Homo sapiens: one gene and its partners. The protein of the gene in region 1 interacts with the protein of each later gene in a biochemical or structural test. Each region holds a gene or a part of one and is shown in the gene's direction. Other genes may lie near its edges. The genes, in order: TRIM29, HDAC9 and RNF13.

Region 1 (7,235 bases):
ATTGGTGACAGAATCAGGTGTTCCCAGGCCACACAGTAGGTAAGTGAAGGTGGCTCCACCTGCTGAATCAAGGGAGGCTGCCAGGAAGGGAACAGCTTTGAGGTGCCTCATGGGAGAAGCCTGGGAGGAGGCTTGGGGTTGGCCCACGGGTGCGTGTGGGAGGAGGGACTCTGTGGGGGCTTTCAGGCATGCCTGGTCTGACAGGGCCAAGCAGGAAGAGGTAGAAGTTGCCTCTGCTCCATAGGAATCCTTCTCTGGAAGCCACACCTGCCAGCTCTTCTTACCTTCTAAAGCTTGCAAGGGATGAGGCAGGGGCTGGCAGCCAGTCACATCTCACCACCACCTGGTATAGGGAGAAACATTGCAGCAGGAAGACTTTAAGCTAGACCAGAGGGAGAACAGGGTGAGATGTGGGAGGAGTGACTGGGGTGGGGGACTTCACGGGCTCCCTTTCTTTCAAGGCCTTTAAAAGTGAAGAGGCCTCTCTGCCACAGCAGTGCAGATGATGGTCTTCGGGGGCTTTTTGCCAAGTTGCACAGGACACATAGGCTCTGAGGGCCATTAGGAAATGCCCTTTATGGAACCTGTGCAACTGAGTTTGAGGCTGGAGAGGGGCAGGACCTCAGCAGACGCGGTTGCCTGTAGTCAGGTCCTGAGTGAGGGCCTGGGGAGCTTGGGGAGCGATCACCTTCCTATGAGGTGTGCAGTGCCCATCCAGACCTCAGACCTCCAGGGGTGGGAATCCTCTTCTTTGGTTCAGCTCCAGGAGGGATGTTGGGGTGGTGGGACGAGGGCTTGGGGACCAGCCCTGAAGGGACAATTGTTTGCTTCTTTTCAGCTCTTGGCTTCTGGGATCTCCAGGAGACTCTACCTTCTGCTAGGCATTTGGGTAGAGCAGTCCCTCAAGGGAAGAGGGGCCCTGCACCCTGGCCTAGGAGAACCAAAAGACCAGTCAACCAGCACCCACTGAGAATTCAGCTGAATAAATATCTGCTGAGTCAAGTCAAACACTGTCTCTGTGTAGCCAGGGAGGCCACTTATGTGCATGGAAAGCGAGCCATGCTCATCCTGGTTGGAGAGACCAGCCTCTCTCAGCACATGCTGGTTCCTCCCTCCTCTGAGCAGCCCAAGCCCCTCACACACATTTATCTCATTCACTGTTCATGCCAAATCCAAGTGATTTGCTTACTGATCTCTCCTCCCACTAAACTATGAACTCCCCAAGGGCATGATCTGGGACTCCTTCCTGTCCGTATGATCAGTCCCTTGCCTAACCCTGGCCCATGGTAGGATGCTCAACAAGTATGTGTGAATGAATGAATAATTAACAACACCAGGTGGGCTGAGCTAAATGCTTCCCGAGTAGGACAGGCAGGGATAGATGTTACAGGGGTTGAATGGGGGCAGTGGTCACTGGGCTTGGGTTAGGGAAAGCCTCTTGGAAGAGAGAAATTTGCCTCATCTTCCCTTTGCCTTGAATCACTTGAACCTGTTCCCCTGACATCCTCCAGCATCCATCTTTCTATCCTCCCTCTTATGTCTTCCACTTTGATCATGCACTAGTCCTCCAGCGATGCGTTGGAGCAGGCTCACTGGCTTGGGAGAGCTGACTGTGTGCATCTCTTTCCAGTGCTCTTCACATTGGTAGCTTGAGACTGACTAGGGTGAAATTTTCAAATGCTACAAACCAGTGCTTTTGTGCCTGGAAGAGTCCGTTGCTAAACTTTTATCAGCATACCTTGCAATCCACTCACTCACCTACTTACTGCCTATCTGTCTCCTTCCTTCCTTACTCTTCCCTTCTCTTTCCTCTCTCCTTCCCATGTATCACCCTTTCTTTCTCTCTTCTTCCATTCTTTTAAAAATTCTTTTACCCATTTCTTCAACTATCTGTCCATCCATCCATCCACCCATTTCCTTATTCATATTCATCTAGTTTTTACTTATTTCATTTACCCATCCATCTACCCATCCATCCATTCATCCATTTGTTCATCATCCAACCACCCACTTATCCATTATCTACACATCTTATCCATCTGTTCATTTATTTCCCAATTCACATTCATCTAGCTTTAACTTCTTCCATGCATTCATCCATCCATCCATCCATCCATCCATCCATCCATCCATCCGTCTGTCCATCCACCCACCCACAAATATTCTCTGAACATTTACTCTGTGTCAGCCTATTCCTAAGGTTCAGAATCTTTCCCCAGATTTCTGGAAGATGGGTGCATGAACTGTAAGAACTAGCGGAGGCCCTCCAGGGTGCCCCAGGCTCATCCAGCATTGATGTTGGACTGTAGCCAGAACCCAATGACTTTCCTCTTCTGTTTCTTTGTGTCCTCTCTGTTCTTTTCTCCTCACCGCCTGTTCTCTCCAGGTTAGGGAAATATTATTAGGGAAAGGGGAGGGGCATGTCCCAATCCAGCAGGCCAGGACAGGACTTCCTTCTCTCCTTCTCCCTCCGTACCTCAGGCAAGAGCCCAGAGAAATTGGGCCTGGCATTTTGAGTAAGTGTCCCCCTCCCCAGAAGGCCCAACAAGCTCTTAGCCAATTCACCAGTGAGTTCAAACAAGAGGGGGCTCCTTTGGGGCCCACAGACAGAGACCTCAGGCAAGAGGAGAATCCCCGTCATGAAGCCAGCACTCCCCACGCCAACACCACCTCACATACATCCTCTCATAAGTGAACTGCTTTGTGAGGTGGGCTTGTCTCTGCCCTTGTTCCCAGGGGCTGTTTTTGCAAAGGATTAGCTGCTCAGCCTGGTGAGGCAAAGGGGCGGGGGCTTCCTAGCTTGACATGGATTGGAGGGGAAGGAAGGGAAACCCATTCCCCTCCACACAGCCCAGAACCTGCCACGCCAGCCTCACCTACTGTCTGCTCTGCCCTGCCCAGCCTGGCCTTGGAGAGGCACGGCCCTTTCCTTAGGGGTTTGGAGGCTTCCTAGGACCAGGTCAATGGGTCAGAGCCCAGAAGTGGCTGGGGGGCATGTCCTACAAGAGCTAAGGGTCCTGGTGTTCCGCAGGGGCCACGGAGAGGAAGGGGATGAAGTTTGTTTTTCTCACTTTTCTTCCTGAGGTCTGTATTTATATGATAGTCATATTTGAACAGGTGACTTCTGAGATTATCTGAATCTCACACTTTGCTGACCTCTTTTTGGAGGGCATTGCCTGTGGCCTGGCCCAGAGAGGATGGGCAGGTGTTTTCTGAGTCACACAGCAGACCAAGTGTGGAGACAGGTGAGAGTCAAGTGTTTGGGCCCTGAGGACCCAACCACCTGGGCTGGCATTGCTTGGATTCCCCTCATTGTTGTGCCTTGGTCATTTGAATCCACGCAGGTAGCAATAATCTAAGGTCTATATGTATCTTGTTGGGGCCATTGGGATAGGACAGACTCTCAGAAGCCATCTTCTGATGAGATATTCAGGTGACTCCATGACCACCCAGCTGAAGAAGGGACTTTGGCTTCTCAAAGGCTTAGGGTTCAAATCCCAGCTCGGCCACTTGACTTAGGCCAGTGAGTTATCTTCTTAAAGCCTGTTTTCTCATCTGTTAAAAAGGGGTAATTGAACAGGTTTTAGGGAAGCCTGAATGAGCTCGTAATATATGCAATACCTAGGAAAGTGCCTGGAGGTTGGCAAGTAGGGTTCAATACTCAGTAGCCAAATCAAATGGAACCCATCCTTCCCCCTTAAGGTGAAAAGCAGCGATACAGTCCCAGGGTGGACAATCTTTCCTCTGAAACTCAGGCCTGCAAATTACAAGGCTATTTGGCTTGTGTGACCCAGTTAACAGCCCTGTGTCTGGTAGGCCTCTGCAGACACCTCACCTTCTGCCCCAGGGGCCTCTGGGCTCAGTGAAGCCTGCCCACTTGTGAAGACGGAGACTCCCCGCTCCCCGGATGAGAAGCAAGTGCGTCAGAGGGAAGCAGCCCAACTGGTTGCTGAGTTGTGGAAAATAAGCTGGGGGAGAAAAAACACTTCTTTTAAAAATCAGGTTAGGGATGAATGTGCAGGGCGTGGTTCCTGTGCAATTATCTGCTCTGCTGGCTGCGGGGCTCCCTGCTTCTCCCGGGCCGCTGTGTCAGGCTTGTGCCTGTTGCTCCTCCCCTCCACTCCTCCCCCTCCTCCTCCTCCGCCTCCTCCCCCTCCTCCTCCTCACAGGTGTGTCTCTAGTCCTCGTGGTTGCCTGCCCCACTCCCTGCCGAGACGCCTGCCAGAAAGGTCACCTATCCTGAACCCCAGCAAGCCTGAAACAGCTCAGCCAAGCACCCTGCGATGGAAGCTGCAGATGCCTCCAGGAGCAACGGGTCGAGCCCAGAAGCCAGGGATGCCCGGAGCCCGTCGGGCCCCAGTGGCAGCCTGGAGAATGGCACCAAGGCTGACGGCAAGGATGCCAAGACCACCAACGGGCACGGCGGGGAGGCAGCTGAGGGCAAGAGCCTGGGCAGCGCCCTGAAGCCAGGGGAAGGTAGGAGCGCCCTGTTCGCGGGCAATGAGTGGCGGCGACCCATCATCCAGTTTGTCGAGTCCGGGGACGACAAGAACTCCAACTACTTCAGCATGGACTCTATGGAAGGCAAGAGGTCGCCGTACGCAGGGCTCCAGCTGGGGGCTGCCAAGAAGCCACCCGTTACCTTTGCCGAAAAGGGCGAGCTGCGCAAGTCCATTTTCTCGGAGTCCCGGAAGCCCACGGTGTCCATCATGGAGCCCGGGGAGACCCGGCGGAACAGCTACCCCCGGGCCGACACGGGCCTTTTTTCACGGTCCAAGTCCGGCTCCGAGGAGGTGCTGTGCGACTCCTGCATCGGCAACAAGCAGAAGGCGGTCAAGTCCTGCCTGGTGTGCCAGGCCTCCTTCTGCGAGCTGCATCTCAAGCCCCACCTGGAGGGCGCCGCCTTCCGAGACCACCAGCTGCTCGAGCCCATCCGGGACTTTGAGGCCCGCAAGTGTCCCGTGCATGGCAAGACGATGGAGCTCTTCTGCCAGACCGACCAGACCTGCATCTGCTACCTTTGCATGTTCCAGGAGCACAAGAATCATAGCACCGTGACAGTGGAGGAGGCCAAGGCCGAGAAGGAGGTAAGTGCTGGGGCCCCTCCTGCCCCTCCAGGCCTCTCCTCTCTCACCCCACCCCTCCGAACTTCATCTTCTCCACTCGGGCTTCCTCGGGTTTGGGGCTTAAGTTTCTACTGTCCTTGGCTCTTTTAGAAAACATTTATTTCCCCTCATGCCCCCTGTCCCCCCTAATCCCAGCTGGGGATCAGAGGTTGCTCCCCAATCCCCTAAGGTCTCAGGAGACAGGGACATTTTCTAGATGAGCGGATGGAGACTCAGAAAAGGTTGAGGGCCTGACCAAAGTCATAGGATAAATTCGAGTCAGGTTAGAGAGTATGACCCAACTGCATAGACCTCACTTCTGGGCTCTGTGCCTGGCTGAGGTGTTTCTTTCTTCTTCTTCTCCTTCTCCCTCTTCCTCTTCTTCCTCCTCTTCTTCTTCTTTTATTTTTTTTTTTTTTTGCTTTGAAGAAGAGATAATTCCTCCAACCTGAGTCGGACTGGCCCCTGGGGAATGGGTTGTGGGTGAGGAAAGATACTAGAAGGAGAGAATTTTGGGGCCCACTGAAAGGTCCTTCTTGCTGTCTTTGTAGTTTTTATTGTCGTACAGTGGCTTCTTGTTCTAGCTGATCCCCAGCTGGTCTCTTGACTTCCTCCACAGCCTCCTTTATCCTTCTCCCAGCTGGGCCCTGTGTTTTGCGTGTGTGGTTGTGTGTGGACACACATATTCCTGCAGGCGGACACCGTTGGGGAAGTTTGGAGTTTGTGTGTGGATGGCGTGTACGTGTACAGCTAGTCCCTGACTTAGGATGGTTTGATTTACAATGATGTGAAAGTGCTATGCTTTCAGTACAGTATTCCATAAAATCCAACACTTTATTACAAAATAGGCTTTGTAGTAGAAGATTTTGCCAAACTGTCGGCTAATGTAAGTGCTCTGAACAAGTTTAAGGTAAGCTAGGTTAAGCTATGATGCTTGGTAGGCTAGGTGTATTAAAAGCATTTTTGACCTATCACATTTTCAACTTACAATGGGTTTATTGGTAAATAACCCCATCACAAGTTGAGGAGCATCTGTATATGTGTTTATTTTATGTGCACGTGGGTGTTTTTGTGCCTTTGTGGATGTTTGCATGTATTCATATATGTGATACGTAAGTGTGTTTGCATGAGTTCTATGTGACTGTGCCTGTACTTCTATGGGGAGGAGCAGAGGCAAGTGCAGGCTTGTGGATGTAGCATACCTGGGGAAGGTGATTTGGGCAAAGGGCCCAGCTGTGGCCACTGCCCTTTGCCCCACAGATGTGGGGCTCACTCTTCCCTAAGGTACACAGCTTCCTGCTGTGGGTGGCCTTCCTGGGGCAAACCTTCCTGGCCTCCAAAGCAGTGAACTCCACTTTCCTGAAGAGCTTCTGCACACCTCAGATCTGGACAGCAGAGGATTCCTTCCTGCCCAGCCTTCCTGACCAGGAGGAGCTGGTTGATTACTCTTTCCCTTCATCTCTCACCCACACCCCTGGACAGAAAGGGCTGAGGTAGAGAGGGGAACAGACTCACAGATTCCTTCCAGAAGCCTCGTTTGGCCCAGGAAGAAGATGTTTCCAGCTTCCCCCATCTTCTGACCCCAGCGTGGCCTCAGGTTTCATACTGAGAGATATAGATGGGACGGGGCCATGAAACTCATTCTAGGGAGTTTACTTGGGAGGTTAGACAGAACAAGAGGCAATCATCCTCATCACAGCAGCTGAGAAATTGCAGAGCCTCAGACAAGGTTTTAGGAAATGTGACCGAGTTCCAGTCCCAGTTTTTGCCTCTAACTAACTGTAAGGCTGTGAATAAGTCCTTTCCACGCTCAGTCTCATTCTCCCAAGGGGTGAGGCTAGATTGTTGGTTTTCAAATTACCCCACAGAGCCCTGGAATTCTTAGACATGTCTTCGAGGCCTCAGGATGAGGAGGGGGTAAAGAAGTGTCAAGAAGGCGGAGCATTCAGGTTCCCACCTCGACTACAAGCAAAGGACATTCTTATTGATTATCTTCTATGTGGGTTTGGCCTCAAATTTGGTCTCAACCAAGGATATCTCTGCTTAAGCCTGGGCACCCCTGGAAGATGTGGTTCTGGTGGGCAGGAGGGTCTTGGGCAGCCCTATGTGGATGTGCCAGGAGCTCAGAGT
Region 2 (7,112 bases), on another chromosome or scaffold:
TATCATAGTTAATTTTTTCAATAAATTATTGAACTGTACTAGACACCAAACATGTACATTTTGGAATCTAGAGTTATAAAATATTCTGACATGTTTTAATATAAACAGGAACATTTCCAGTGATTGCTTGGATCGAAAATGTTTTTCCCCTTGACATTTGTTTATACTTCCTAGGAAAGAAATTCTATTTATGGATAACTGAATAACACAAATAAACATCAGAGAGAGCTGAAAAATCAGCTTTGATTATGCATGAAAATCTACAATGTCATTGTGTACTCTTATGCCGTATTCTGATTGCCTGTTTATTTTTACAGAACTGCTGGTGAGCCTATGGAAGAGGAGCCAGCCTTGTGAAGTGCCAAGTCCCCCTCTGATATTTCCTGTGTGTGACATCATTGTGTATCCCCCCACCCCAGTACCCTCAGACATGTCTTGTCTGCTGCCTGGGTGGCACAGATTCAATGGAACATAAACACTGGGCACAAAATTCTGAACAGCAGCTTCACTTGTTCTTTGGATGGACTTGAAAGGGCATTAAAGATTCCTTAAACGTAACCGCTGTGATTCTAGAGTTACAGTAAACCACGATTGGAAGAAACTGCTTCCAGCATGCTTTTAATATGCTGGGTGACCCACTCCTAGACACCAAGTTTGAACTAGAAACATTCAGTACAGCACTAGATATTGTTAATTTCAGAAGCTATGACAGCCAGTGAAATTTTGGGCAAAACCTGAGACATAGTCATTCCTGACATTCTGATCAGCTTTTTTTGGGGTAATTTGTTTTTCAAACAGTCTTAACTTGTTTACAAGATTTGCTTTTAGCTATGAACGGATCGTAATTCCACCCAGAATGTAATGTTTCTTGTTTGTTTGTTTTGTTTTGTTAGGGTTTTTTTCTCAACTTTAACACACAGTTCAACTGTTCCTAGTAAAAGTTCAAGATGGAGGAACTAGCATGAGGCTTTTTTCAGTATCTCGAAGTCCAAATGCCAAAGGAACCTCACACACTGTTTGTAATGGTGCAATATTTTATATCACTTTTTTTTAAACATCCCCAACATCTTTGTGTTCTCACACACAGGCAATTTGCAATGTTGCAATTGTGTTGGAGAATGAAGTCCCCCCACCTCCCAGCCACACACACATCCTTTGTTCTCATGACAGTAGGTCTGAGCAAATGTTCCACCAAGCATTTTCAGTGTCTTTGAAAAGCACGTAACTTTTCAAAGGTGGTCTTAATTTGTTGCATATCTATCAAGGACTTATTCACTCACCTTTCCTTTTCTGCCCTCTATCAATTGATTTCTTCTTACCTTTCATCATTCATTCCTTCCTTTAGAAAAACTGAAGATTACCCATAATCTCCTCTTATTACTTGAGGGCCTTGACTATTTAGTTTATTTTGTTTACTTTACAGGTTAACACAGTTGTTTTGTCTGATTGCATTTTATTAACTGTGAAGCCGTTGAAATGAATATCACTTAAGCAACGTTGCTAAATTTCTATGTGTTTGAAATGTGTTAATGAAGGCACTGCTTATTTGTAGTCACCTTGAACTGACTTAACCTAGAAGCTGTGCCTTCTTGTGAAAAAAAAAAAAAACAAAAACAAAAAACAGCCTTTAAACAAGTTTCCTTAGTGTCAAAAGTTAAAAATAAAGGACATTTATTTCTGAGATAAAAAGTAACTTACTAAATATAAGTAGGTTATCCTCCTACCTCCTAAAATTCGATTTCAACATATAACTCAAACACCTAAACATATTGAGGTAGAATATCTCACAGTATTTAATATCTGACAATGCTTTTGAAAGAGTTGATGTTTCTTTTTATATATTTTTCTAACTCAAAGGATATATTAAAGCCATAAGTGAAGATTGTCATGCTTTTATTCAGAAATCTGAAAGAAACCTTAATTAAAACAAGGTTTTAGGGAAGGCCATGATATGAAAGATATGGAACAATATGGTTTTAGTTAGAGAGGACTCTAACCTGTAAATCAAAGATGAAAGATTTCACTCAAGTAGAATTATATAACTCCCTTTGTTATACAGTCAGACCATATTTTTCATGCATTTGGTTTTTTTAGGATTACCATTTTAATTTTAAAGACTTTTATTACATATACAAAAATGGCTCAATACTTGGTTTAACTTCTTAGAAATTTGAGACACCCTTTGAAATAGGAAATCTGAAATGGAATGTAACTTAGTATTAGGTAAAAATTGCTTTCATTGCGTAAGGGCAAATTCAGTCTAGATTCATAGTAGTAATCAATTTTTTATAAATTTTATTTTCATGAGAAATTCATACCAATCATATTTGCTAGCTTATGTTATTTTGCAGTGATTGCTTGAGGATATTTACTTAAAAAAATAGTAGAGCCAAAGGCTTAACAAAAGACTCTCCCCCATTTTAAAAAGGAAACTCATGTTTTAATTAGAAAAATAATTGTGTAGTTTTAAAATCAACTTCATAATTATAAATCTCTGTCATTACTTTTTAGTCCTCCCAGATATTTTTTTAGTTGTTGAATAAGAAAATAAAACAGTGTAATGCAAACATGCTAATTTACTAAAGTTTCCTACAACAGTTTAGCCACATGTTTATGCCAAGCCATTAATCTGATAAAGCCAAATCACTAGGACATCTCCATGGTTATTTAGATTTAAAACTTGACACATTAATGAGTTAATCACACATACTCCCATATGACACCATACCCAATTGGTTGCACTTAGAGTCTTTAAAATACCTGGAGAAGCAAATGAACTGTGGAGAGGATTATCCACAGCATGTAGTTGTAAGAACAGAATGCCATTGCTTTTTGATTATACCATTACAAGATGGAGCATAGCCCTGAGGGACAGAATGGAGGCTTTCCGAAAATATCAACACTTCTTTTGAAATAGACCAGCACTTTTTGAAAGGGTAGTTTCACTTGGTATAGTTTTTCTTCACTTACCCGTTTAAATTTTATTGCTCGCAGTTGTTCTGAATGAGAGGCTAGAAGAGTATTATCAATTTTGCATCTCCTTGTGATACTTACTTTGAAGGAAAATCACATACGCTCTCTCATGGTCTCATGGTATCTCATACAGGGTGAATAAAAATGATTTTTGATAAATCTACTAGTAAATAATACTAGGAATTTAATAAGCTGTCAAACGTAGGTATAAAAAGAAGGCTTAAAAATTAATTTTCCCAATTGTATAATTTGGGGCTGTATATTAAACTAAAAAACACAGACAGTTTTATTAAATAGTAACCAAAATGGACTCAAATAAAACCAGAGGCTATGTTACCATTGCTTAGTAAATGGAAAGAACATTGTGAGATGAACTATCTTTAAATATTGTAACAAGTTTATAACATCAATAGTGGAGACAGAAGTCAGCTTTGGAGAAAATAGAGATATTTATGAAAAAACTACTACAAATCACATTTCCATTACCAATCCTGGGGATGGAAATATTGCCTTCAGTTTTTACTCCAGCCCTATACGACACTCTCACTAACCTTTCACTGACAACATCATGGCCTTGAAAGCAGGGATCTCCTCCCACAAAGGCTTCAGAAATTACAGGACTGGTCTCTCTTAATAGTTTAGTCCTGCTTTATTTCCAAAGGGCAATTATAAAGCCTCGTGGATTTACTGGGTTTCTTTACAGACTCCATATGGAAGTAAAATAGAATGATCATTTGGAAAGTCTCCTGGGAAAAAATTCCTCTTCAATCAGCATTTTAAAACTTTTTTATTTTTGAGTCAGAGTTTTGCTCTTGGTGCCCAGGCTGGAGTGCAATGGCGCAATCTCGACTCACTGCAACCTCCGCCTCCCGGGTTCAAGCAATTCTCCTGACGAGTAGCTGGGCATGCGCCACCACGTCTGGCTAATTTTTGTATTTTTAGTAGAGACGGGGTTTCTCCATGTTGGTCAGGCTGGTCTCAAACTCCCGACCTCAGGTGATCCGCCCGCCTCGGCCTCCCAAAGTGCTGAAATTACAGGTGTGAGCCACTGCACCCGGCCAAACTTATTGTTTTAATCCCAGCATTTATGTTTAGAAGAATTAATTTAAATATTTCTTACTATTTCTCTGTCGAATGTTTACTCTCATCTTATCTCAATGAAAGAAGTATTAAAAGTCTTATGGCCCCAAAAGAAACAAGCCAAACTGTACTGTCTTAAAAGTGATTCATTCTGAGCTTGAAACGACTCTGTCAGTGTTTGACATTGTCATTTCTAGTGGCATGTATCTTAACATTCTTTTCCTGCTTCAGGAATGAAATCACTTGTCCTGCTGAGAAAATAAGGGGAAAACAAGATAGAAGTAAAAAACAACACACCTGTTGAACTATTTTCATAAAGATGGCGTTTTCACTTTCAAAAGAAATGAAAACCAGATGGTCTATGCTAAGAAGTGAAGGCATTTTGTTGTCTTCAGAACTGATCAACATGGTCATGATCATCATCAAATTTCTTGTTTCCAAAGGCCACTATTGTAGTACAGTCTCCAGCAGGATTTTGTACCATGTGCTGCCTTTGGAATAAAGTATTATAATGTATCTTGTCACCTTCATCAACACCACCATTAAATATGTAAGTTCCTATATGTGACTTTTTCTGGGCATATTTGCATCAAAAATCACAGTCCTTGCCTCCTTGCTTGCTTTTACTCCATGAAACGCTTCATGAAGCAGAGCATGATTGTCAAGTGACCAGAGGATGACATTTGTAAGTGAACGTGGTATACTCACACATGCTATACTCATACTACATAACTTAGTTTCTCCAAATCAACTGCAGTCCGTTTTATCTATGATATTCCTGGCTTCGTATAATGGTTTTGTAAAATACATTAAATACAATTAAGTCCGTTATTACTATGCTGGAAATAACTAGGTCAGACAATGAAACCTTAGACTTTTGATTGGGGCTGTTTGGACTTGATCCAATGATAAGGTAATAAGGTTGTTGCAATTTCTCAAAGCATCTTAATTCTCAAACTGAAACATTTAGCAAATACATGGTGAATCTGGTGTAAACTTACAATCTAACAAATAATTTTCTTTCAACTCTTCTCTTTTTCTGCCTAACAATCTATACGAAATTGCCAATATCTAAGCAATCAAAAGTTTCTGAAATCTCTGTTTCCTTAGTAGAAATGACCTTGACAACTTATTTTCTGAGATACCACTAGGCCTACTGTCTTTCATGCCATTTTATATAAACATTTTGATAGATACTCTGTCTTTTGTTTTTTATCTCTTCTCTTTTCAAGAGTCACTTGACTTTTTCAAATATTCTTAAAAGATAGATTTAGTTATTGTATTTTGGTCTACAATTTTGGACTTGGCAGTTTGTTTTACTAATGCAGAATTATTCTTTTTGTTTCAAACATAGTTTGCCATCATCTGGCTACTACCTAATCATGTTGTACTAGTTATTGTGGAAAGAAAATTGTACATACATTTCCTTGTCCTTTGGGAGATGTCTTTGAGTCAAACCCACAAGCATGAACTCTCACCTGAAAGAAAACTGGAAAAGGAGAAACTTTAAATCAGTATGTTTTGAAAGGAAGAGATTTCCAGACTTTTTAAAGCAAATTGGAATCGTTTTATTTTTTTGTTTGGGCCTTAGGCACAATAGAAGCAAATGTTGCAATATTAAATATAATAGGGAGAGTTCACTGTTTCCTGGGACATTGTGGTCATGTCCTTAATCCTTCATTGTGATGCCCCTTCTTGGAGTTGGCATTTTGTGACAATTCATAGAGATCTTGCAGCAATATTTGGCTATTGGTTTTATTAACTTAAAATTCAACAGAAATGGAGTAATTAAAAAAAAAAACAAAAAACAGAGAAGAATTGCAAAATCTGAAGTGGAATGGCACTTCCTTGGGTATGTAAGGGTTGTTTTTAGATAAAACTCCCGATTTGTTCTTCCTACACTTTAATAGTCTCAAATTCTTTCTGGGGAAGCAACGTCAGTGTCTACCTCCACAGTAACTATGATATAGGAAATTGTCCTTTCAGTGGTTTCTAGGTATAACAAACAAGCCGTTAAAAATGAGTGACCATTTTGTAGGTTACAGCCTCAGCAATCTGTGTCATTTGAAAGCAAATATCCTGATATTTTTAAATAAGGTGAGCAGGGCAGGCAGGAAACCAATATTTAGTACTTTTGTGATTAAACATTCTAGACCAGGCTTGTTGATATGTATGCCAATAGCCTAGAATTTTTGGCTTAGTGTAAAATAAAAATGTCTTTTCTATTGTGGTCTGATATCCGTTTCTGTAATAAGATCAGTTTGTTGTCCTCTGTGCACCAGTGGTTTTGCCCTTAATTTTTTTTGGCTAGCATCACCAAGATCTGTCATCCAGAGCTGCTGAGAAAAATACATGTTGCCAAACTTTTCTTAAAATTGTGCTGCCAGTGGTATTTTCCCAGATGTGAAAAATAATAATCTAATAAAGGATTAATATCTAATAACAATACCATTGTTGAACATGCTCATGGAATGTCCACCTTCTTCTGATTCCTTTTTTGTATTTGAAAATGCAATGGTGTGTTCCAAATTATTGTTGGTGTTGTTAATGTCATGACTCTCCTTTGAATAGAATAAAATAACCCCTTTTGTTTTGTGTTTTCTACTGAATTAGATTTTCCTCTAGTCCTATGTGAATAAAAAGCTATTTGAAATAAAAGTGTTCTTATTTTTCTATGTCCTTGGTGCCTACCATTAGACTCTGGATAGCAGATATTTGACGAATATTTGTTGGATAAATACAATATTATGAAATATGAATTACCACAAAATGTACTATTCCATTTTCAAAAAAAAAGATTTACTTGTGAGTAAATCTCCCTTAAAATAATGTGAAAATTCACAAAAGAAGAAGTAAATTAAAACACAGTTGCTATTTGATTGTAGCTTGATGGTTAGAATAAAGAACAATAATAACTACCACTGATTAAGTACCTTCCATGTGCCTGTCACTCTGCTGAACACTGTACCTGAATGATATTTAACCATCACACGAACCCTGCCTCATAGGTGTTATTAGTCTCATTTAGAGATGAGAACATCAAGCACTGAAAAGGTTAA
Region 3 (7,112 bases), on another chromosome or scaffold:
CTAAAATTTAATAACAACTATACCTTATTTTGTAAATATTTGTGTGCTTTTATGGTATGATTTCTAACCAGAAATTGTCCACATTCAGTGATTCACTAGGAGCATTTACAAGACTCAGCACATGGTTGTACTTATGGCTGTGATTTATTACAGCAAAAGGATACAAAACAAAATCAGTGAGAAGAAAAGGCACATGGGGTAAAGTCCAGAGTAAATCAGTGTAAGCGTCTAAGGGTCCTTTCCCAGTGGAGTTACATGGGATGCGTCTAATTCCTCAAGCAAGTTGTGACAACACATGTAAAATGTTTACCAGGGAAGCTCATTAGAGACTCAGTGCCCAGGGTTTATATTAGGGGTTGTTAATATAGACACTCTCTGTCTAGCATGCACCAAAATTCTAGATCCTAGAAGGAAAACAGGTATTCAGCACAAACCACATTTTTTGTAAAGTGTAGGCACACTGAGCTGTTCTTACTAGGAAATAGTGGGAACTGTCCTGAAATCTAAATTTCCAGATGCCAGCGAGGGGCCAACCTTGCAAGCAGACCTTTCTAGGGATAGCAATCTCAGGCCTGCTGTGTTAACTCTTTTCTGTACCATGGTATGTTATGAAATGTATTTTACTTAAGAAACGAATGTCAACAAATCTAGACATTTAAAAAAAGCTTTATTGAGATACAATTCTCACATTATAAAATTCAACCAATTAAAGTGTACAATGCAGTGATTTTTAGTATATTTATAGAGTTGTGCAACCATCACCAGAGTCTAATTTTAGAACATTTTCACCATCTCCCCTCCAAAACCCTTACTCATTAGCAGTCATTTCTCATTCCCACCTTTCCCCTCCCTCAAGCTTTCCCCCCACGCCCTGCCAATCCCTAGGCAACCACTAATTTACTTTTTGTCGTTAAGGAACAAATCTATACTTTAGCATGTTTTCATTTTTATTTCATCTCTGATATTAGTGGCTTTGTAAATGGTACCTTAAAAATTATTCACAGGTATTTTACTTCCAGTGTGTGAGTCAGAGATTCAGAGTTTGAGTCTATATGGCAGCTTCTATATCTAGAGCACTTATCCACACTAATCATCATCAAAACGGATATTACATGAGTTTGGGATATTTAATGAAATAATTCATTATAAAAGCCCTTGTTTTTGTAATGTTCGTTCTCACTTGTTTAAGAGTATATAATACAATTGATTGAGGCTTACCAATGATAATTTTTATATTTATGGGTTGACATTTAGTCTTTTCACGGTATCTTTTTGCTAAAAGAGAGAAAGGGACTCATAGTGAACAGGATGAAGTTGGGAGAGGTAGTTATGCTGTTGCCATTCAGACGTAGAGAGGGGAAAAAAGCATAGATTGTTAGGAGGTAATGGACAAAAAGTATTCCTTTATTATAAGTGGCTGTTAATTTTTTGGCATTCTCTGATGTTGGTACAATATACAATAGCAAATGAAAAGTAAATTTACATGTGAATTTATATTGAACCAGAAGTAAAAATTTTTTAAGTTGTAGAAAATTTTCAATTTTAAAGCAAAGATGCTTGTGTGTATGTTTTTAACCATTATTTTGGTTGAAATCTAGTTTCTCTGAAATTTGGGTTAGTAAGACAAGCTGTACTATAAACTGAGCACTGTGGGAGGATGTTTGTTTTGTGATTAAAACAGAACTTTGTCATCATGAGTTACATAGGTATTGACTAAACATGGGTGTTTACCTAAATGTCCAAATCTGTGTAAGTTCTTATGCTTTTGAAATAAAAGCTTTACTTTTAATGTTAATACATGTTTATAATTAAAAGGGATATTTTTGGACATTGGGAATTAATATATCAAATGATCTATTCCCTGGGACAAAGCACCAGCTCTCAGTTACTCACATCCTTGTCTTCCAGGTGATTTTACAACGAGATGCTGCTCTCCATAGGGATGCTCATGCTGTCAGCCACACAAGTCTACACCATCTTGACTGTCCAGCTCTTTGCATTCTTAAACCTACTGCCTGTAGAAGCAGACATTTTAGCAGTAAGTACAGTAAAATTTATTCATGTCTAGAAACATCCCTTAAAGAAAAGCTTAAAAAAAGCCTGGAATGATATTTATAAGACATTGTTATAAGACATTTTTATCTAAAAACATACCCCAACACATATACACAGTTACTTGACATTGAGGTACCTTATTCATTTGTTTATTTATTTTTTGAGACGGAATTTCATTCTCGTTGCCCAGGCTGGAGTACATTGTTGCGGTCCTGGCTCACTGAAACCTCCACCTCCCGGGTTCAAGCAGTTCTCCTGACTCACCCTCCTGAGTAGCTGGAATTACAGGCGTGTGCCACCATGCCCGACTAATTTTTTTGTATTTTTAATAGAGACAGGGTTTCACCATGTTGGCCAGGCTGGTCTTGAACTCCTGAACCTAAGGTGATCTTCCCGCCTTGGCCTCCCAAAGTGTTGGGATTACAGGTGTGAGCCACCACGCCCAGCCCCTTATTCATTTTCTATTGCTTCATATCTAATGTAAGATCTCATGAACAATCAGTACCTGATAAATAATGTTGCTCATGAGGGTATGTGTGCACATGTGGGTGCTTTGCACACATACCTACCTGCTGTGTGCTTACATAGAATTTTACTGTTTTTCTTGGTACCTAGTACATCTCTTAATGACTGTAAGATCTCAGTAGTATCTCTATTGATAATAATATTTAAGAAATTCTATAAGATGTTCATAGAAAATTTCAACCCAAGATTAGCATTAATGAATCAGAAGAGAAGCACAGTGGTCCTATCTTTGATGGTGGATAGAAAAGTTTTTAGAGAAGAAGAGTGCTGCTCAAAACCTTAGCATAGCCTCTCTTAGCTACTGTCTTACTTTCCTCCACACTGGGGAGTATACAGATGGTCTCCAGCTTAAGATAAGGCTTGACTAGTGAGCTTTCGACTTTATGATGGTATGAAAGTGATATGCATTCAGTACGCACCTCAACTTATGATGAGATTATGTTCCAACAACCCCATCATAAGTTGAAAATATCATAAGTAGAATTTGACTTATGAAACATTTTTGACTTAGATATTTTCAGTTTATGATGAATTTATCCAGATGTAGCCCCATTGTAAGTTGAGGATATATATTTTCTATTTCTCTTTTTCTGTGAAGGTAGAAAAAGAACATACATGCCTATACTCTAGGTCTGTGCTAAGGATTTGGTTTTACTTTCTGGGTGCAACTGATTTGCTTAATGATATCAGGTGAGAAATAAAAGGGCAAGAATTGTTGCTGACCAAAGCTTGATGTGGTCCCCAGCTGTGCTTCTGCACATTGCAGTAATTCTGGAAGATTCTGAGATCATTGTAGCACTTGAGAGAGCCAGGCTGGTTTCCATACCACAGCTTTTGAAGGCAGAGGATGCTAGTAATCCATACGAGATTTCTAACCCCCTGTTGTCCTCTGTAGTAGGGAACTGGTTGATTAGGTTTGTTTTGGGGAATAGTCTTGGTCTTTTTGAGGTGGAATGGAAATAGAGCCTTTAAAGACTGAGTCCATTGCTATCCAAATCTCCCTTCTAAATTGGTCCCTAAAATCCTTAGAATATTCTTGGCATGACTTTTGAAATGAGTTAGAGGATTTATGGACTGATCAGGGAATAAACTTCTCCTTGTCTCCTTTCTCTCCTTTGATTTCTTCCATTTTGTGTCTCTCTTTTTCCCTCTCTGTTGTTTTTAATACTTTTTGCCTTCTTTCTTTCATTTATACCCAAGGTGGATTGCTATTCTGTGGTGGAGCTCCCTGATGGGTTAAATGATTTTCAGTGTTGTGCTCTGGGAACTTAAGCAGATATATAACCTTGATCAAATTACTCAGCTGCTATAAGTGCCACAGTTTCTTTATTTCTTCATGTAAACTGGAGTGTTGTGGTGGTGATTAAATAAGATAAACTGCTTAGAATAGTATCTGACACATAGTAAATATTTTATATATGGTTTTAATCTTCATTATAATTATCATTCTGATTATACTTCATTCAGCCCCTTGAGAAGATACAAAACTACCTGAGCTGTATTTTTTAATTTAGAGACAAAAAAAAAATGTTAGGTATGGAAGAATGGTCAATCCTTTTTGCCAGCAGTGTTCCTTGTGCTTTACACAGGTACTTGTGGAATGTATGTTGATGTCCTGTAGTGAAGGAACTGTAAGATGGGAGCTGCTTAAATCTGGTCTCTATGCTGTCCATAAGGATAGAAGGCTGACACGAATGCAAAGATGGCTGGAGGGGAGTGGCTTGTGAAAGCATATAACTGGTAAAACAGGGAACTAAAAATTGAGACAGAGGAACTGGATGTGTGACAATCATTCAAAGGAAGTGAGTTAAGAGGTAGAAAATAAGAGCACCTCCTTTTAATGCAATAAGAGCATCCCTGAAATCTGAGTTTGCAGTAATACAGATATAAATAAATTAGACATCTAGTTCCAGTCAACTAGGTTGATTCTAGTTCCATTTGCACAGGGCTTGGGGTGCTGCTTTTGAAAAATTAAGTTTTAGTTATGCTATTTGTAATGCCAGATGCCTTTGATTTTTTGGTTGGTTGGTTGGTTGTTTTGTTTTGTGTTTTTTTTGTTTTTTGTTTTTTGTTTTTGGCAGTTGAATTCAATTCACAGACAACAGTGTTTGTCCAAGTAGTTGTTGAGTTCTAAGAGGCTATGGAGATGCTACTGTAGCATCTAGTCTATAGCTGACTAGACTAGCTGACTAGTCAGACAGACCTCTAGGCCATGAGTACTTGGAAGGCAGGACTGTGTCTTACTAAACTTTATTCCTGGTGCCTGGTGTCAGTTACACAGGAATTCAATAAACGTTTGAAGTAATTAAAAGCCTTCTCTTAGAGATTTTGTACCATCACATTTTCTTTTAATAGCATCTGTTCCTTAGTACTTTTAGATTACTGTTTTTATCTCTTATCATTTTTCTTTTACCCAAAAAGAAACGTAATACTATTAATTATGTAGGTTTATACTAGAAACATGGAATTTTAGAATTGCACTTAAGAGAGAACTACATCAGTGCTGTATATTCTGAGACTCAGAGTCCACAAGTGACATGTTAGTTTTGAGTAGTGCCCATGATTTTACTGAGAAGTAACATCCATCTTATATGAGAGTCAAACAACCCATGTAGCTTGATGCCCAGTCTGCCTTTTGATTCTTTTGTCTGGATTTGTCAGAGAGAATTGGTTGCTGGGTAGTGATTATTGAGGGCCAGTGTGCTGTGTAGCAAAGAAACACCCAATGGGTGGTGGTGTGAATGGATTGGATTATATAGCATGGGTAGTCCAGGCTCCAGAAATGGATTTATAATCAGAGTTGAAATCCAGCTCTACCACTCTATTTGCATGACCTTGGGCAGATTACTTAACATTTCTTAAGTCGCAGTTAACTTTGTAAAAGTGAGAGTTTGTGAAGGACAGTGCAGGGTAGTGGGTTAAGGGCTGGAGCTCTGTGGCCAGACTGCCTCGGTTAGAATCCTGGTTCTTCTAATTTACCAGAGCTTGTTATTTTCAACATTCTGTTGTCAATCTGTAAAATGAGGATGATAGTAATAGTGGCCTACTTTGTAGAGTTGTTGTTAGGATTAAATAAATTATTACCTGTAAAGTGCTTAGCATGATGTCTGTACATAATGAGTGCTCAGTAATTGTTAGATATTTATTACTTTCTAAATTCAATTAAACCTTTTGTTAAGGAAGCTGTCAAGAAAAATAATTGGTTAAGGAAAAGACCTTTTCAAAATAAGTGGAGTCAAACTTATGTGGTAATCACTAAGAATGGGATTCTAGTGAGGAGTAACTATTTTCTACTTCAGATTTTTTTTTTTTTTTGAGATGGAGTCTTGCTGTGTTGCCCAAGCTGTTGTGCAGTGGCGCAATCTTGGCTCCCTGCAACATCTGTCTCCTGGATTCAAGCGACTCTCCTGCCTCAGCCTTGCAAGTAGCTGGGATTACAGGCATTTGACATCAGGCCTGGCTAATTTTTGTATTTTTAGTAGAGATGGGGTTTCAACATGTTGGCCTGGCTGGTCTTGAACTCCTGACCTCAGGTGATCTGCCCACCTCGGCCTCCCAAAGTGCTAGGATTACAGGTGTGAGCCACCACATCCGGCCTACTACTTCAGATTTTTAAACAGTGAACATGCTTTAATTTTATGAGCATCGCTCCCCTCCCTCCTTATACCAAAAACGTAAAGTACCTTTGTTAGTCTTGTTCACTGTAGGAACATTTTTTGTTTTAAACAATATGATTTTAAGAGACAATATGAAACAATCCTTATTTTGCTGTTAAGGAAAGACAAAGCAGTTTCAAAAAGGGTTTCATTCAGTAACAAAACTTATTCCACATCTCAGTGTTACAAGTACTGTAGTTCAAGCTAGACATTTTATTTCTATAATTTTAGCTATAATAGTGAAACTCTTAAGTAATAGGAAGAGATAAAAGAATACTTTAGTATAGTTTGTAGATTCCCCATTTCCTAATTTCAAAAGTACATTAAAAAATACTGCTTACACACATTTGTATTTTGTCCTCATTCTATTTCCATTGATCTAGATAAGTTACTTTATTTTACAGTGACATCTTTGGCTGGGATGAATTAAATGTTTTTCTCAAGTTCAACATTAACCTGATCATAGGTGAATTAAATCAATTAAATGTGTTTTAATTAAGAGATTAAACGATAGATTGTGATAATGGGTTTAAAAGCATTTTGTAACTCTGAAGTACTTTGTAAACTATGGAGTACTCTGCAAATATGAATTATTGTTGCAATGGGAAATCACGCTGAAGCAATTACCACATATACTTGATGGCCTCCAAGTACACTGCTAGGATGATTATCCCAGCAATGACAGAATGAATAGGTTTAGTGACTGCATTTAGATGCTTGAATCACACAGTTTCCTGAGCTAATTACAAGCATACAGTGAGAGGCAAAGGTATAAGATGGACATGCTAAGACACTCAAGATAGGGTTCCAGTGGGATGCAAGAACCACACTACCTGAATCCTGGGTCACTTGTTGTAGTTTGTCCAGTCTTCCTGT

What was found.
Region 2: of the proteins of TRIM29 (region 1) and HDAC9, one has a biochemical effect on the other in vitro, tested with the Homo sapiens proteins (one study listed by BioGRID).
Region 3: the proteins of TRIM29 (region 1) and RNF13 form a complex in vitro, tested with the Homo sapiens proteins (one study listed by BioGRID).

What each region holds. Positions count from the first base shown.
Region 1 is NC_000011.10:120,135,080-120,142,314, reverse strand, and holds the start of TRIM29 (tripartite motif-containing protein 29), read left to right. Parts: upstream 1-4,201; 5' UTR 4,202-4,283; coding exon 4,284-5,087; intron 5,088-7,235.
Region 2 is NC_000007.14:18,995,706-19,002,817, forward strand, and holds the end of HDAC9 (histone deacetylase 9), read left to right. Parts: intron 1-317; coding exon 318-357; 3' UTR 358-6,711; downstream 6,712-7,112. UniProt on the Homo sapiens protein: Responsible for the deacetylation of lysine residues on the N-terminal part of the core histones (H2A, H2B, H3 and H4).
Region 3 is NC_000003.12:149,844,103-149,851,214, forward strand, and holds part of RNF13 (E3 ubiquitin-protein ligase RNF13 isoform 1 precursor), read left to right. Parts: intron 1-1,908; 5' UTR 1,909-1,924; coding exon 1,925-2,038; intron 2,039-7,112. UniProt on the Homo sapiens protein: E3 ubiquitin-protein ligase that regulates cell proliferation. Involved in apoptosis regulation. Mediates ER stress-induced activation of JNK signaling pathway and apoptosis by promoting ERN1 activation and splicing of XBP1 mRNA.